Linked DNA regions of Homo sapiens. The protein of the gene in region 1 purifies or fractionates together with the protein of each later gene. This does not show direct contact. Each region holds a gene or a part of one and is shown in the gene's direction. Other genes may lie near its edges.

What was found. Proteins that work in one complex are often made in the same cells at the same time.
Region 2: the proteins of TDRKH (region 1) and PLD6 purify together in Homo sapiens (affinity purification with mass spectrometry; 2 studies listed by BioGRID and IntAct, with this or other methods). This does not show direct contact.

Annotation. Positions count from the first base shown.
Region 1 is NC_000001.11:151,787,495-151,795,219, reverse strand, and holds the start of TDRKH (tudor and KH domain-containing protein), read left to right. Parts: upstream 1-4,719; 5' UTR 4,720-4,840; intron 4,841-7,725. UniProt on the Homo sapiens protein: Participates in the primary piRNA biogenesis pathway and is required during spermatogenesis to repress transposable elements and prevent their mobilization, which is essential for the germline integrity.
Region 2 is NC_000017.11:17,203,316-17,210,402, reverse strand, and holds the start of PLD6 (mitochondrial cardiolipin hydrolase), read left to right. Parts: upstream 1-4,069; 5' UTR 4,070-4,116; coding exon 4,117-4,543; intron 4,544-7,087. UniProt on the Homo sapiens protein: Presents phospholipase and nuclease activities, depending on the different physiological conditions. Interaction with Mitoguardin (MIGA1 or MIGA2) affects the dimer conformation, facilitating the lipase activity over the nuclease activity.

The DNA of each region.
Region 1 (7,725 bases):
CTGAGCACACTGACTCACTCCTGTAATCCCAGCACTTTGGGAGGCTAAGGCAGGTGGATGCCTTGAGCCCAGGAGCTGGAGACCAGCCTGGGCAACATGGTGAAACCCCATCTCTGCTAAAAAGACAAAAATTAGCCGGGTGTGGTGGTGCATGTCTGTAGTCTCAGCTACTTGGGAGGCTGAGGCAGGAGGATCGCTTGAGCCCGGGAGGTGGAGGTTGCAGTGAGTAGAGATCATGCCATTGCCCCAAGCCTGGGCAACAGAGCAAGACTCTGTCTTAAAAAAGAAATAAATTCCTCTTGTGGTTTAACTATAAAGTGTAACCCCCTTTTTGGACTTCATTTCCTCTTTTTTGCCCATCCCACCTTCACTGGAGCTAGAAGAAGATGGACCCATAAAGTAGGTCTGTATTTTTATAGCAACACTGGACACATTCTTCCTTGGATTTGAACTACCATTTTACTTTTTTTAAAGTAAAAATAGCTATAGCAATCAAGGCACTCAATACCTAGGAATAATTTTAATAAGAAGTATGTAAATTCTACATAATGAAAACTAAAATTCTACTGATGGGGTACCAATGACTTGAATGTATAGGAAGATAGGAAGATTCTTATCATACATTCTCCTTTAGATAATCTAAAAATATGTGATTCCAGCCAAAATAACAGTAACAGAATAGAAGAGTAAATTATGGTTCAATATAGCCTCACAATATTATACCACACAGTAGTCAGAATGAAGGGACTAAAACTATACACAATATGGCTGAATCTCACAGAAATAATTTGAACAAAGGAAGCCAGACACAAAAGAGTACATACTCTGTGATTCTCTTTATATAAAAAGCAAGAACAGGCAAAATTAGTTTATGGTATCAGGAGTCAGAAGAGTGGTTGTCCTTGAGAAGAGCAGTGACTGAGAGGGAACACACAAGTGGCTTCTGGGGCACTAGCAATGTTCTGTTTCTTGATCTGCTGCTGGTTACACAAATGTATTCCATTTGTGAAAATTCATCAAGATATATACTTGTCATTTGTGCATTTTTCTGCATGTATATTATAAATTAATTTTTTAAATTGTGGTAAAAAAAAAAACCATAATGTATACAATTTAAAAAATTTTTAGGCCGGGCGCAGTGGCTCATGCCTGTAATCCCAGCACTTTGGGAGGCCGAGGCGGGCGGATCACCAGGTCAGGAGACCGAGACCATCCTGGCTAACACGGTGAAACCCCGTCTCTACTAAAAATACAAAAAATTAGCCAGGTGTGGTGGTGGGCACCTGTAGTCCCAGCTATTCGGGAGGCTGAGGCAGGAGAATCGCTTGAACCAGGGAGTTGGAGGTTCCAGTGAGCCGAGATCGTGCCACTGCACTCCAGCCTGGGTGACAGAGTGAGACTCCGTCTAAAAAAAAAAAAAAAAAAATTAATGATCAATGGAACAAAATGAAAAAAATCCAGAAATAGACCCAAATACATATGGCAATTTGGTATTATAAAGGTAGCATTCAAAAACAATGGAGAAAACATGGGTTATTCAATAAGAAGGATTTGAATAAAACAAAACAAAATTGGATCTCTATCTCACACCTTTACACCAAAATAAATTCCAGATGAATCAAATATTTACATATACAAAGACACTATCAAAGTACTTTTTAAAAAAACATAGGAGCTTTAAGAATAATCTTAAATAGTGGGAGACTTTACTAAAAATTATATGAAACACAGAAGTTGGCCAGGCACAGTGGCTCACGCCTGTAATACCAATACTTTGGGAGGCTAAGGCGGGTGGATCACTTGAGGCCAGGAGTTTGAGACCAGTCTGGCCAACATGGCAAAACTACTCCGAGTCTACTAAAAAATACAAAAATTACCCAGGTATGGTGGTACATGCCTGTAATCCCAACTACTCAGGAGGCTGAGGCACGAGAATCTCTTCAACCTGGGAAGCAGAGGTTACAGTGGGCCAAGATCATGCCACTGCACTCCAGCCTGGGCGACAGAATGAGACTCTGCCTCAAAAAAAGAAAGAAAGAAACCCAGAAATTATCAAAGAAAATATTGATAAATTCAATTACATAAAAATTTTTAACATTTGCAAAGAATAACCATAAACAGGCTGAGGGCAATGGCTCAGGCCTGTAATCCTAGCACTTTGGGAGGCTGAGGCAGGCTGATCACCTGAGGTCAGGAGTTGGAGACCAGCCTCAAAATATGCAATATACATAGAACAAACTTGGAAAAGGGAAAATACTTGTTATATGTATAAACAATATACATAGAACAAACTGGGAAAAGGGACATACTTTTTTTTTTTTTTTTTGGAGATGGGGTCTCGCTCTGTTGCCCAGGCTGGAGTGCAGTGGCAATCTCGGCTCACTGCAACCACCGCTTCCCCAGTTCAAGTGATTCTCCTGCCTCAGTCTCCCAAGTAGCTGGGATTACAAGCGCTTGCCACCATAACCGGCTAATTTTTGTATTTTTAATAAAGACGGGGTTTCAGCATGTTGGCCAGGCTGGTCTTGAACTCCTGACCTCAGGTGATTAGCCTGCCTCAGCCTCCCAAAGTGCTGGGATTACAGGCGTGACCCACCACACCTGGCCGGGGAAAATACTTTTAACTTATATACAAACAGCAAGTATTAAGAAATGACCCTATAACCAATAAAAATATGAACAGAATATAAAAACAGAGAATTTACAAAAAAATTGCCATTTAAATATATTAAAAGATGCTCAACTTTACTTATAAGAGCAATGAAATTTTATCTTGCAATGAGATAGCATTTACACTATCAGATTGTCAAAAATCAGGAAGTTTAACAGCACCAGTGTGCTATCAAACAGGTTCTTTTCATACATTGCTGACAGGAGACAAAATTGGTAAAATTTCCAGGGAAGGCAATTTGGTAATACTAACTAAAATCATTTTCAAAAATTGCTGGTGGGATTAAAATTATAAAAATCTTTGTGGGAGGAAGGGAATTTACAAAATTTTATCTATCCAAATGAAAAAACAATGCACACATTTCTTTAACTTGGCACTTGCATTTCTAAGTATTTATCATACACATATGCAAGAGGGAAATGAAGTATCCTTGCATATCAATCAAATGTTAAAGGACTGGTTAAATATATCTTCATATATCCCTCAGGCATACTATGAAACTATCACTATGAGGCAGATACGTATATGCTGCTACGGAAACATTTCCAGACTGTATCAAAGAAAGTTGCAAAATAGTATGTATGTTATCAACTGGGTTAAAAAAATATATGTGTGTGTATATATATATACACTTTATATATTACACATATACACACGTTAACTATAGAATATCTTGTGAAATTTTTCACAAGAAACTGGTAACCCTAGTTGCCTTGAAGGAAGGAAAATTTATTCACTATAATAACCTTGTTTCTTCTGAATTTTGTAGAATGTAAATGTATTACTTATTCAAAACGCATACACATTTTTATATTAATAGAAAGCAAAACCTGAGGCCCAAAGGCATCTGCCTAATTGACAAAAGATACAACCTTGCGTTCTTTCAGCAAATATTTATTGCTCATCACCTGCCAGGTATTGTGATGGAAGCTAGTGCGGAAGATCCCCCAATGACCAGGATCGCCCGACCCCTGTTCCCAGGGTGAGCCCCTAGCGCGGAGCGGGGACAGGGTGGACCGAGTAGGGCGCAGTGCTGGTCTCGCGAGGCTCCCTGCCCCACGGAGGCAGTAGCAGGACCCAACCGTTCCTAACCGTCCAGGGACCAGGACAGCGTCTGGAATAAAATCTTCCAAAGCAAACTTCCGCCTGCGGAGACCCGCTCCCTTCCTCGCCCCCACAGAAACGCCCCCCGCCACCACCCCCTCCCCCGGCGTAGGCCTTCACGCTGTCGCCTCGACCCGTTTCCTCGAATCCCCAGGGAAGGGTGGGCCCCTGGCGCCCCTATGGCCCGCCGCCCCCTTACCACCGCGGTCGGAGCCCGGGTCTCACTCTCCTGCCGCTGTTTCGGGCCACACCGTGTGTCCGTGCCTCCGCAAAGGAATAGAAGAGTGGGTCCTCGCTCTCTGCGGCGCACCGCTTGTCCCTTGACTTCCTGTCCATCTACAAAGCCTATTTCATGTTTTCCAGAAAGAAAACGTTTTCCGTGTCTCTTGAGTCCTCATCGCCATATGCGGGGCGGGACCGATCTATGCAAAAGATCGCAAGAGAAAACTGATGGAGCATCGCCCATCATGAGGCTGCTCTCCCGATGGTCACTGAGTTGTGTTGTGGCACTGTCTTTGTACAAAGACACCAATTTTTGCGAACGGTGCCACTCATGATTCAACGCTCTCATGCCTCGGTCCCAGCTGCTGGAGCGCAGATTTTCCTCCAAGGGTTAGAAGATAGAAAACTCCTCGGTAATTGGCCTAGAGGTGGTCTGCGAGGACGCCGGGAAGCTTGTAATTGGCTGTTTAATTCTCAGCAGGTGCGGTCTCAGTTAACAACATCTGCTTTTCCTGGATCTTATTGGCTGACAGGGTGGGCCTGCTTTGGATTCCATCCGGGTAATTGGGCAGCGGCTAGCAGCAGCCACGTCGCTCAGGGGCAGCCCGCGGAAGGATTGGTTGTGACGGGAGAAGGCGATTGGTCGGACTGCGAGCAGGGTGTTGATTGGTGCTGTCGGGCTGCGGGGGCGGGGAAGTGGCGGCTGAAGCGCCGCCGGCGGGGCTCACTGTGGTGGTGTGAGTGGGAGGCGGCGGCGCTGGTGGCTGCAGCTGGGGTGAGGCGCGAGGCGGCGCACTCGACGGCTGACTGGAGCAGCGGTAAAGGCGAGGATGGAGACCGAAGGTTTGGGGAGTGGGAAAGACAGGGTCATGGGCAGCCCTGGCCACTAGGAGACGGAAATGCGGGAGCGAGGGAAGGGAGGGGTCTGGCGTGCCCCGGGGCGAGGGAAGGATGTGGGGCGCAGCGGGGGAGTCAGAGCCCTGGGCTGTGAGACGCCGCTCGGGGGCAACTTGACCCACTGGGAACTCGTAACTGTATCTGAGGAAGATGCTCCAGTCACCCGCTTACGCCACAACGGACCCGGTGCGGGAGCGTTTGTGTTTGCCCTGAGTCAGTTCAGACTCTTCCACTGGGCCTTTTTGAGACTGAGAGCTGCCATCCGTATATCACTTTGCCTTTAACTTTCCCCAGCTTTTTCTTTAGTTATCGCTAATAGGATGGCTGTTTACAGTCGTCAGAATAATACATTGGGGTTTTTGTTTTTCCAGTATCCCTCATTCCTTAATCCAGGTATCATCGTGGGGGTTGGCTGGAGACCCCTATTTCAAAGACTGACTTTTAGACCCTTTCCTTGTTTTGAGAGAAAGGGGTTGACACTTTTTTTTTTCTCGTGAATTTAAAATAAACGTACCAAGGATGAGAACATTGAGCTGCTTCGATTCAAGCATGTCACCATGTTGTAGGTTCTTTGTAGGTTCTGGTTATTAGGAGATACTGGAATGAGTTATCTATGCTTTCATGGAGCTAACAATGTGATTTGACTTCTCATCACATCCTATTTGACTCCTGTCATTTTAAATGATAAAGTAAGCCTTAGCGATGCATATCAGATAGTTTTTGGCAATTGTTCAATACAAATGTCAGGAAATTTCAAAGTTAGCTTTCACTGAAAACCATTATCTAACCACATTCCTCACTGAACAATGATCCTCATCTTCTCTTCTTAGCTTCCCCTAGAAACTGTGGTCTTAAGTTCTAGTATTTTCCTCCTTCCCATTCAATTTTTAAGTAATAAAATCAAACACAAGCTAGCAGTCAGTACTATGCAGTTATCCCCGTTTACATTATATTATTTTCCATTTCTCTTTAAGAGAAACTTATAGCTGAAAGGATATGAAAATTGTGAACAAAACCATAGTGACAGATCAAGTAGAGTCTCATTTTTTGAGACATCAGCTGATAACTCAATTAGCACAAATTCATTTGTAATGTTTGAAGAGGAGTTAGTGAAATTTACCTTTTGCTTCAAATAGAAGTCGGCCAAAACCGCACCTATAATCTCAGCTACGCCGGACGACTGCGGGAGTTCAAGGCTGCAGTGAGCTATTATCATTCACTGCATTCCATCCTGGGTGACAGACCAAGGCTCTGTCTCTAAATAAACAACAACAAACTCTCCAATTCATCTGTTCTCCATCTCCATCATTGACACCTGGACTAGGCCCTGATTGGTCTCCTGCAGCCACGGTTGCTGCCTTCAATTCATTCTCCTCACCACGGACACAGATGTTAATCAAGAATGACAAGCATGGCATGTGTTATCAAGGGATATTGGGGATTCTGTGGAAACCCATAGCAATGTAATTCAACCCAGTGTAGGGGGTCGAGATTGAGGGGCCTTGGCTGCAGAGACCCCTCTGCACTTGATCTTGATAGTGTCAGAACTGGAAAACAAAAGTGCTGCTAGTCCTTTGGGCCTCTGTAAAGAGGTGTGATTATGACTGGCCATCAAAACAGACTTATTTCTATTGCACACTGTATTGTGTAGAAATGACTAATGAGCTGTGTGATCTTAGATCAATCCTTTTCTATCCCTTAGCCGCAGTTTCCCAAATTGCAACGTTATTAATGGAATCAAATAAGTTCTGTAGTCCCTTCTAGTTATAAAATCTTGTGATTTCTATGCCCCATAAGCATCAATTATGGCCAGTTTTTAAAAGCAGACAGCATGAAAATACAGATCCAGTTTATTCTTGTTCACAGGGCTAGATTTCAGTTTCCCAAAGCCCTTAAGACCTAAAGACTCCTGCCTGTCAAGATCTTCCTTGCCAGACAGGAAACTCCATGAAGGCAGCTGCCAAATCTATCTTGACTGTTGTGTCCCGAGGGTCAAGCACACATCAGAATTCGATATTTATTGGCTTGAATAAATGTCCATTTAGTGCAGTTCATTCATGTAGTATAGGTTTGCGGAAGAAAAGTGAGTTGTATTTTAATGAGATGATTTTCAACTATACACCATCTAAGAAATAAACCTTAAGGTTCTAGCTACTTTCAACTGTCGCATTGACCAAGAATTTATACAGTTGTCCCTCCCTTCGTTATTTGCAGGGGATTGGTTCCAGGAACCCTGCAGAACCCAAATCCATAGATGCTCATGTCCCTTGTATAAGATGCATATTATTTGTATATAACCTACACACATCTTGCCCTATACTTTTTTTTTTTAAACCCCTTGAGACAAATTCTCGCTCTGTTGCCCAGGGTGGAGTGCAGTGGTGTCATCAGTTTACTGCAGCTTCCACCTCCTGGGCTCAAGCCATCTCCCACCTCGGCCTCCTGAGTAGCTGGAACTACAGGTGTGCAACACCACGCCTAGCTAATTTTTTTTTTTTTTTTTTTTTTTTTTTTTTTGTAGAAACAGAGTCTCACTATGTTGCCCAGGCTAGTCTTGAATACTTGGTCTCAAGCAGTCCTCCTACCTTAGCCTCTCAAAGTGCTGGGATTAACAGGCATGAGCCACTGTGCCCAGCCTGTTTTGGTGTTTATGTTTCCTAGACTATGAATATTTCCAAGTAGAAATTCTTCTTCCTCCTTCTGTCCCCAACGTGCTCAGCACACAAGAAAGAGCTAGCACTATTTAACCAAGATGCATTAATAATGGAAACAAGCTTTGCACTTTAGTGGTCATATAAGAAAATACCTAAGCCAGGCGCAGTGGCTCACGC
Region 2 (7,087 bases), on another chromosome or scaffold:
ATCTGATAATATAGTTTGTATAAGCTTTTAAAAAATAAATTGTATATATTTAAGGTATACGACATGATGTTAATGACATACACACACATATTAAAATGGTTATTATAGCCAGGCACTGTGGCTCACACCTGTAATCCCAGCACTTTGGGAGGCCAAGGTGGGCGGATCACCTGAGGTCAGGTGTTCGAGACCAGCCTGGCCAACATGGTGAACTCCCATCTCTACTAAAAGTACAAAAATTAGCTAGGCGTGGTGTCAGGCACCTGTAATCCCAGCTGCTCAGGAGGCTGAGGCAGGAGAATCGCTTGAACCAGGGAGGTGGAGGTTGCAGTGAGCTGAGATGGCCCCATGGCACTCCTGTCTGGGCAGCAAAGCGAGACTCTGTCTCAAAAAATAAAAAATAAACACAAACGGCCAGGCACGGTGGCTCACACCTGTAATCCCAGCACTTTGGGAGGCCAAGGTGGGCGGATCACCTGATGTGAGGTGTTCGAGACCAGCCTGGCCAACATGGTGAAACCCCGTCTCCACTAAACATACAAAAATTAGCCGGGCGTGGTGGTGGGTGCCTGTAATCCCAGCTACTCTGGAGGCTGAGGCAGGAGAATTGCTTGAATCTGGGAGACGGAGGTTGCCGTGAGCCAAGATCACGTCACTGCTGACAGAGCAAGACTCCATCTGAAAAATAAATGAATAAAAAACTAGGCCGGGCACGGTGGCTCACGCCTGTAATCCCAGCACTTTGGGAGGCCGAGGAGGGCAGATAGTGAGGTCAGGAGATCGAGACCATCCTGGCTAACATAGTGAAACCCCATCTCTACTAAAAATACGAAAAATTAGCTGGGCGTGGTGGCGGGCACCTGTAGTCCCAGCTACTTGGGAGGCTGAGGCAGGAGAATGGCGTGAACCTGGGAGGCAGAGCTTGCAAAGTGAGCTGAGATCGCACCACTGCACTCCAGCCTGGGCAACAGAGCAAGACTCCGTCTCAAATAAATAAATAAATAAATAAACTAATAACTAAATGTTGTAACACAAAAGAGGATAAATGCTTAAGGTGATGGATATCCTGTTTACCCTGATGTGATTATTACAAATTGCATGTCTGTACCAAAATATCTCATGTACCCGATAAATATATATACCTACTATATACCGACAAAGTTAAAAATAGAAACTGGAAGACAAAAAATAAATAAAAATCAAATAAAGCTTCTCATTTTGTTGTCTGCCTTTGGTAGATTTCCAGCCCTGAAGTGGCTGTTTTTGAAAACTGTTTTCCCCCAGTTTTATTTTTGTTTATCCCTCTCTGGAGGGATTTGAGTCCTTCTTTATACCTCCACAACTCCAAGTCCCTCCTCTCATTATCGTTTTAGATGAGGAAAGTGAAGCTCAGAAGAGATGAATCAATTTGCCCTAGACCATGCAGCTAGGAAGCCTGGGAGCCAGCACTAAACTCAAGTGTTCTTTTTCTTTGTTAAGAATTTTATTCGCCAGGCACGGTGGCTCACACCTGTAATTCCAGCACTTTGGGAGGCCGAGGCAGGCTGATCACGAGGTCAGGCGATCGAGACCATCCTAGCTAACACGATGAAACCCCGTCTCTACTAAAAATACAAAAACAAAAATTTAGCCGATGTGGTGGTGTGCATTTGTAGTCCCAGCTACTTGGGAGGCTGAGGCAGGAGAATTGCTTGAACCCAGGAGGTGAAGGTTGCAGTGAGCCGAGATCGTGCCACTGCACTCCAGACTGGGCGACAGAGCGAGACTTCATCTCAAAAAAAAAAAAAAGAAGGCCGGGTGCGGTGGCTCACGCCTGTAATCCCAGCACTTTGGGAGGCCGAGGCAGGTGGATCACGAGGTCAGGAGTTCGAGACCAGCACGGCCAAGATGGTGAAACCCCATCTCTACTAAAAATACAAAAATTAGCCGGGTGTGGTGGTGGGCGCCTGTAATCCCAGCTGCTCGGGAGGCTGACGCAGAGACTCACTTGAACCCCGGAGGCAGAGGTTGCAGTGAGCCGAGATCGCACCACTGCACACCAGCCTGGGCGAAAGAACGAGGCTCCGTCTTAAAAAAAAAAAAAAGAATTTTATTGACATAATCACTGACATACATTTTTAGTTATTTACACCATACAATTTGACATATGTATATACCTGTGAAACCACCACAGTCAACCCGATAAGCACACATCCATCACTCCACTTCCTTGTGGCTTTGTTGGCCTCCAGGCTACACTGGTCTGCTTTCCCTCAATCTAGTTTGCATTTTCTAGAATTTTATGTAAATGGAATCATACAGTATGTACTCTTTTTGTCTGGCTTTTCCCACTCAATATTAATGAAATTCATCCACGTCGTAGCACATGTGAGTACTGTTTTTTTTTTTTTTTGGTGGGGGGGGGATAGGGTCTTGCTGTGTCACCCAGGCTGGAGTGCAATGGCATGATCTTGGCTCACTGCAACCTTAGTCTCCAGAGCTCAAGCGATTCTCCCACCTCAGCCTCCCGAGTAGCTGGGATCACAGGCACGTCAGCGCACTCAGCTAATTTTTGTATTTTTTGGTAGAGACAGTGTTTCACCATGTTGGCCAAGCTGGTTTCGAATTCCCGAACTCAAGCTGTCCTCCTGCCTCAGCCTCCCAAAGTTCTGGGATAACAGGCATGAACCACCGTGCCAGGCCACTTCATTCTATTTTATTGCTAAATAGCATTCCCTTGTACAGATATACAAAAGCTTATTTACCTGTTTACCTGCTGACGCCTTTTTGGGTTGTTCTAGGCACATACGCCTGCCAGGACACGTGCTTGTGTTAATGGATCCCGCCCTTTCTCCTAGGAGTGGGATAGCTGGATCATATGGAAGGTGCAAGTTTAATATTTTAATAAACTTTTAATTTAGAATAATTTGCTTTACAGAAAAGTTTCGAATATAGAACAGAGAGATCCATTTACCCCCACGCAGCTTCCTTTGTTAACCTTTTACATTCCTTTCATACATTTGTCAAAGCTAAGAAACTGACATTGGTACAATGCGATTAAGCTCCAGACTTTATTTGGCTCTCACCAGTTTTTCCGTGAATGTCTTCTTTCGGTTCCAGGATCCAGCCCAGACCACCACATTGCCCCGTTTCCCTATGCCCCCGGCCCAGTGCCCTCGGCTGCCTTAGTCTCTTCCTCTGTTTATGCTTAAAGCAGGGCAGGCCTTCCAACAACGCCGGCTGGAAAAAACCTCTTGGGCTAGGAAAAAACCTCTGGGCCGACACCGCCTCCAGTATGCTGGGTTCCAATGCTGCCTCCAGCTGTGTTGATTCCCTGATTATCTGTGTTCCCAGGTCATTCCCCAGCCCAGCCTAGCTGCTCCCGAGAAGACAGTGAAGGTGTGACCCCACATTTCCAGAGCAGCTCTGCTGTGCTCCATGCGAGGAAAGCCGGGGTTGCTGTGGCTTCTAGCGCGGAGAGCGGTCTCTGGCCTGGGCAGGTGACGGGTGTGCTAGGGCCCGTGGCCCGCGGGTGTGCAGGTGCTGCCTGGTGGCGCGGGCTTGGGGACGTGGCTTGGCACGTGGTGGGAGGTGGAACCTGGAGGGCGTGGCCGAGCGCCTGGCTGGAAGGAAAATGGGGGGCACAGCCTGGCGTTGGGGGGTGGAGGGTGTCTGTGGCAGGGGGCGTGGCCTGGCGCGTGGAGGGAGGCGTGGTCACCTGTTGAGGGTTGGGGGCGGGCTGATGGGAGGCGTGGGTTCAGCTTGGTGCGTGACAGTTGTGGGGGCATGGCGCGGCCTAGCGCGTGGCCCTCGGGGGCTGAGGGCGTGACCTTGCACGTGGCCGTTGGTGGGGCGTGACGGGGGCGTGGCCTGGCGTGTGGCCATGGGTGCTGGGCGTGGCCTGGCACGTGGCCTGGCACGTGGCCGTTGGCGCTGCGTGACGGGGGCGTGGCCTGGTGCGTGGCAATTGGCAGGACGTGATAGGGCGTGGCCTGGCGCGTGGCCATGGGGGGCTGGGCGTGGCCTGGCACATGGCCGCTGGCGGCGCGTGACGGGGGCGTGGCCTGGCGGTCTAGGGCTGGGGGCGCGCAGACTCCGCTGCGGCGGCGTGGCTGTGGGTCCCGGATTAGCGGCGGCATGGGACGGTTGAGTTGGCAGGTGGCGGCCGCGGCGGCTGTGGGCCTGGCTCTGACTCTGGAGGCGCTGCCTTGGGTGCTGCGCTGGCTGCGGTCCAGGCGGCGGCGGCCGCGGCGCGAGGCGCTGTTCTTCCCGTCTCAGGTGACCTGTACCGAGGCCCTGCTGCGGGCTCCGGGCGCGGAGCTGGCCGAGCTCCCCGAGGGCTGCCCGTGCGGCCTGCCCCACGGCGAGAGCGCGCTAAGCCGCCTGCTGCGTGCCCTGCTGGCCGCCCGCGCCAGCCTGGATCTCTGCCTGTTCGCCTTCTCCAGCCCGCAGCTGGGCCGCGCCGTGCAGTTGCTGCACCAGCGTGGGGTGCGAGTGCGGGTCGTCACCGACTGCGACTACATGGCCCTCAACGGCTCGCAAATCGGTCTGCTGCGCAAGGCAGGTAGGCCCGGCGGGGTCCAAGCGGAGAAGGCCGGCTTGGCCCACGCGGGGTCCTAGGCGCAAAGGTGGACACTTAGGGGAGGGGGTCTGGGGACGGGCTGAGGCCTCATTTACTTTCCTCGTGGCCTTGTGGGGTCGGGGTGGTGTAACGCGGAGAAAGCAGAGCCCCCACAGAAGGTCTAGCCGGCTGCGTGGGCATAAGCGAGCCGGACCCTCGGTGCCTCCGCGGTGGGGGCGGTTCTCTCAGTGAACTGTCCCGGCATGCTGGAAGCAGGTGGGCCTGCGTGTGCCGGGTTAGAGGCGGAGCAGATTCCCCTAGCAACTCCTCGGGCGCCGCCGGCGGAGTTTTCGTGACTGCTGCAGCCCGGGCCCGCCCTCCTACGCTGCCGGAGATCCCCGGACGGCCTCTGGTAACCTGGATCCTGGTGGCAGGGGAGCTGGACGCCAGGGTTGTGCTTGGACTTCCAGACTGAAGGGCTCTGGGGAGAGGCGGCCACCTGCTGCCCAGTGAATCTCAGGCCACTGGGCTCTGGGAGACCTGAACATGTTCTAGAAAGCAGCGCCAGGACATTCGGTTGTTTTCCCAGCTGCAAAAGGAGGGGAACACATATTTCTGGCGGGGGCGCCTCTCTCATGGGGTGGGGACAGAAGGGACCAGGAAATGTGAATAATTGGGATCCTTGTCCCACCTGAGGATTCTCAGTCCATCCTGGCCCAGTTCGGCGGCCCAGCCTGCTGTTGCCTTTTGTGTATCTGCACTCACAGACTCTTGGGCCTGTCTCTGTCTCCATCACTCAGGCACCCAGAAAGTCACGCCTGCACGTGCAACGGTTGGATCTGATAATACTGGTGGTCGCAGTGACCGAGAGATGTGTGGAGCCCTGGGAATTGTCCAGGCTGGGCAGTGGTCACCGCCGCGCTGTTCCTTCTGCACAGCCATAGCCTCTTGTTGACTTGGGCCTCAGAGCAGCCTCTCCAGAGTCAGCCAGGGTCCCTCCCTGCTCTGGGTGGTGTGGGGCATGTTGCACGCCATGTGGGAGCAGAGTGGGGCACGTGGTTTTCATATTGAGGATGTCTCCTTCTCTTTGGGGCAGCCACAAGAGCTGTCCTCCCATGTGTTGGTCATTTTAACGGGAGGTTTGGGGACCTCCAGGCATGCACAGTACAGTTCTGTTTGAGTTGCTTTTACAGTCGTAGAAGCTGAGGTTGGTGAAGACCCTTCAAGGGCCCCTAGACCAAGGTCCCATCGGATCCCCTCTGGGATGGCCTCCCAGCATCCTCGCTGACTTCGAGGCTGTCCAGTGGCATTCACTGTTCAAGGAATGTCCCCTCTGTGCCAGTATTTGTGAGGAGCTGGAACATCCTAGGGCACAAGGGCACAAGGCCAGGTTGCCACGGAGATGCCAACTAAGTCATGAATATTTCATTTAGGGCACTGAGAAGGGCCAAGAAAACTTCATAAAGCAGGGTAAGGAGGCAGTGGTGTGGGAGGAAGTGGCGTGGGCCAGGTCAGCTGCCCAGGGGCAGTGACACTCAGGGCAGGGACCTTGCTGACACCAGTGGACTGTTCGGAGGGAGAGGCATGCGGCTGGAAGGGGCAGCAGCACAGTCGCCCTGGGTCACAGACTGACTTCCTTTTGAGGAAGGGCAGGAAGTCCCCTGTGGCCAGAGGTGGCAGGCCGCGGGGAGGGGACGGGGAGGTGGGCAGTGGATCCCAGCGGAGGCAGGAGGTGTGGGCGATGGTGGGGTTTTACATTGCCCACCGTGTGGAGGAATGTGTTTGGAGGGCTGTGCCGACAGGACGTGCCAGAGGAGTGGCCAGAGTGTGAGAAGAAGGGCTGGCTCCTCGAGGTAAGGAAGCCACCACGTCTTCATCCTGCCAGGCCCAATTTAGGGGGCACAATTAAATATGAGTTCCATGCACAGGGAGTGATTTTTAGGGTATGTTCCCAGTACTCCATGGGACACACTTCCCTTCAAAGATTACTCTTTATCTGAAATTCCATTTAACTTGGATGTTCTGTATTTTGATTCGGAAAATCTGGCAACTGTGTTCCATGGCAGCCTGTTTAAAACTTCTTTTAAGCCCCATTTCTGACGGCCTCATTCCTTAAGCAGGTCGTGAGTGAGGCAGTGTTATTCCAGGGGAGACAGACACAGGCCCTTCCCAAGAGGAGTTTGAAAGCTGGGAAGAGCAGAGGCCGGGATGCCTGGTTCTTTGGTGAAGGAAGCAGGGGGGTGCGGAAGAGGAGAATTCATTTGTGCGTTGTTAGTTAGGGCCCTTCCTGCCTTGGTGGCCGAGGTTGTGCCAGCAAATTGGGCTCTGCTCTCAGACGCCGGGGCCTCTCTGGGCAGAGTGGGCACGCTCTCAGCCTTAGCTGTGGAAGAGTCAGAACCTGAAGGCTCACACGCTGTCTTTGCCCTGGTCACCTCTGACTGGGTTAGTGACAGCCTTGGCAGCAAGCAGTAACCCCGAAGGGACATACTGGCTGGCATAGACTCGGAGGTGTGGCCTCACCCAGACCACGGCCTGCCCAGTCCCCCA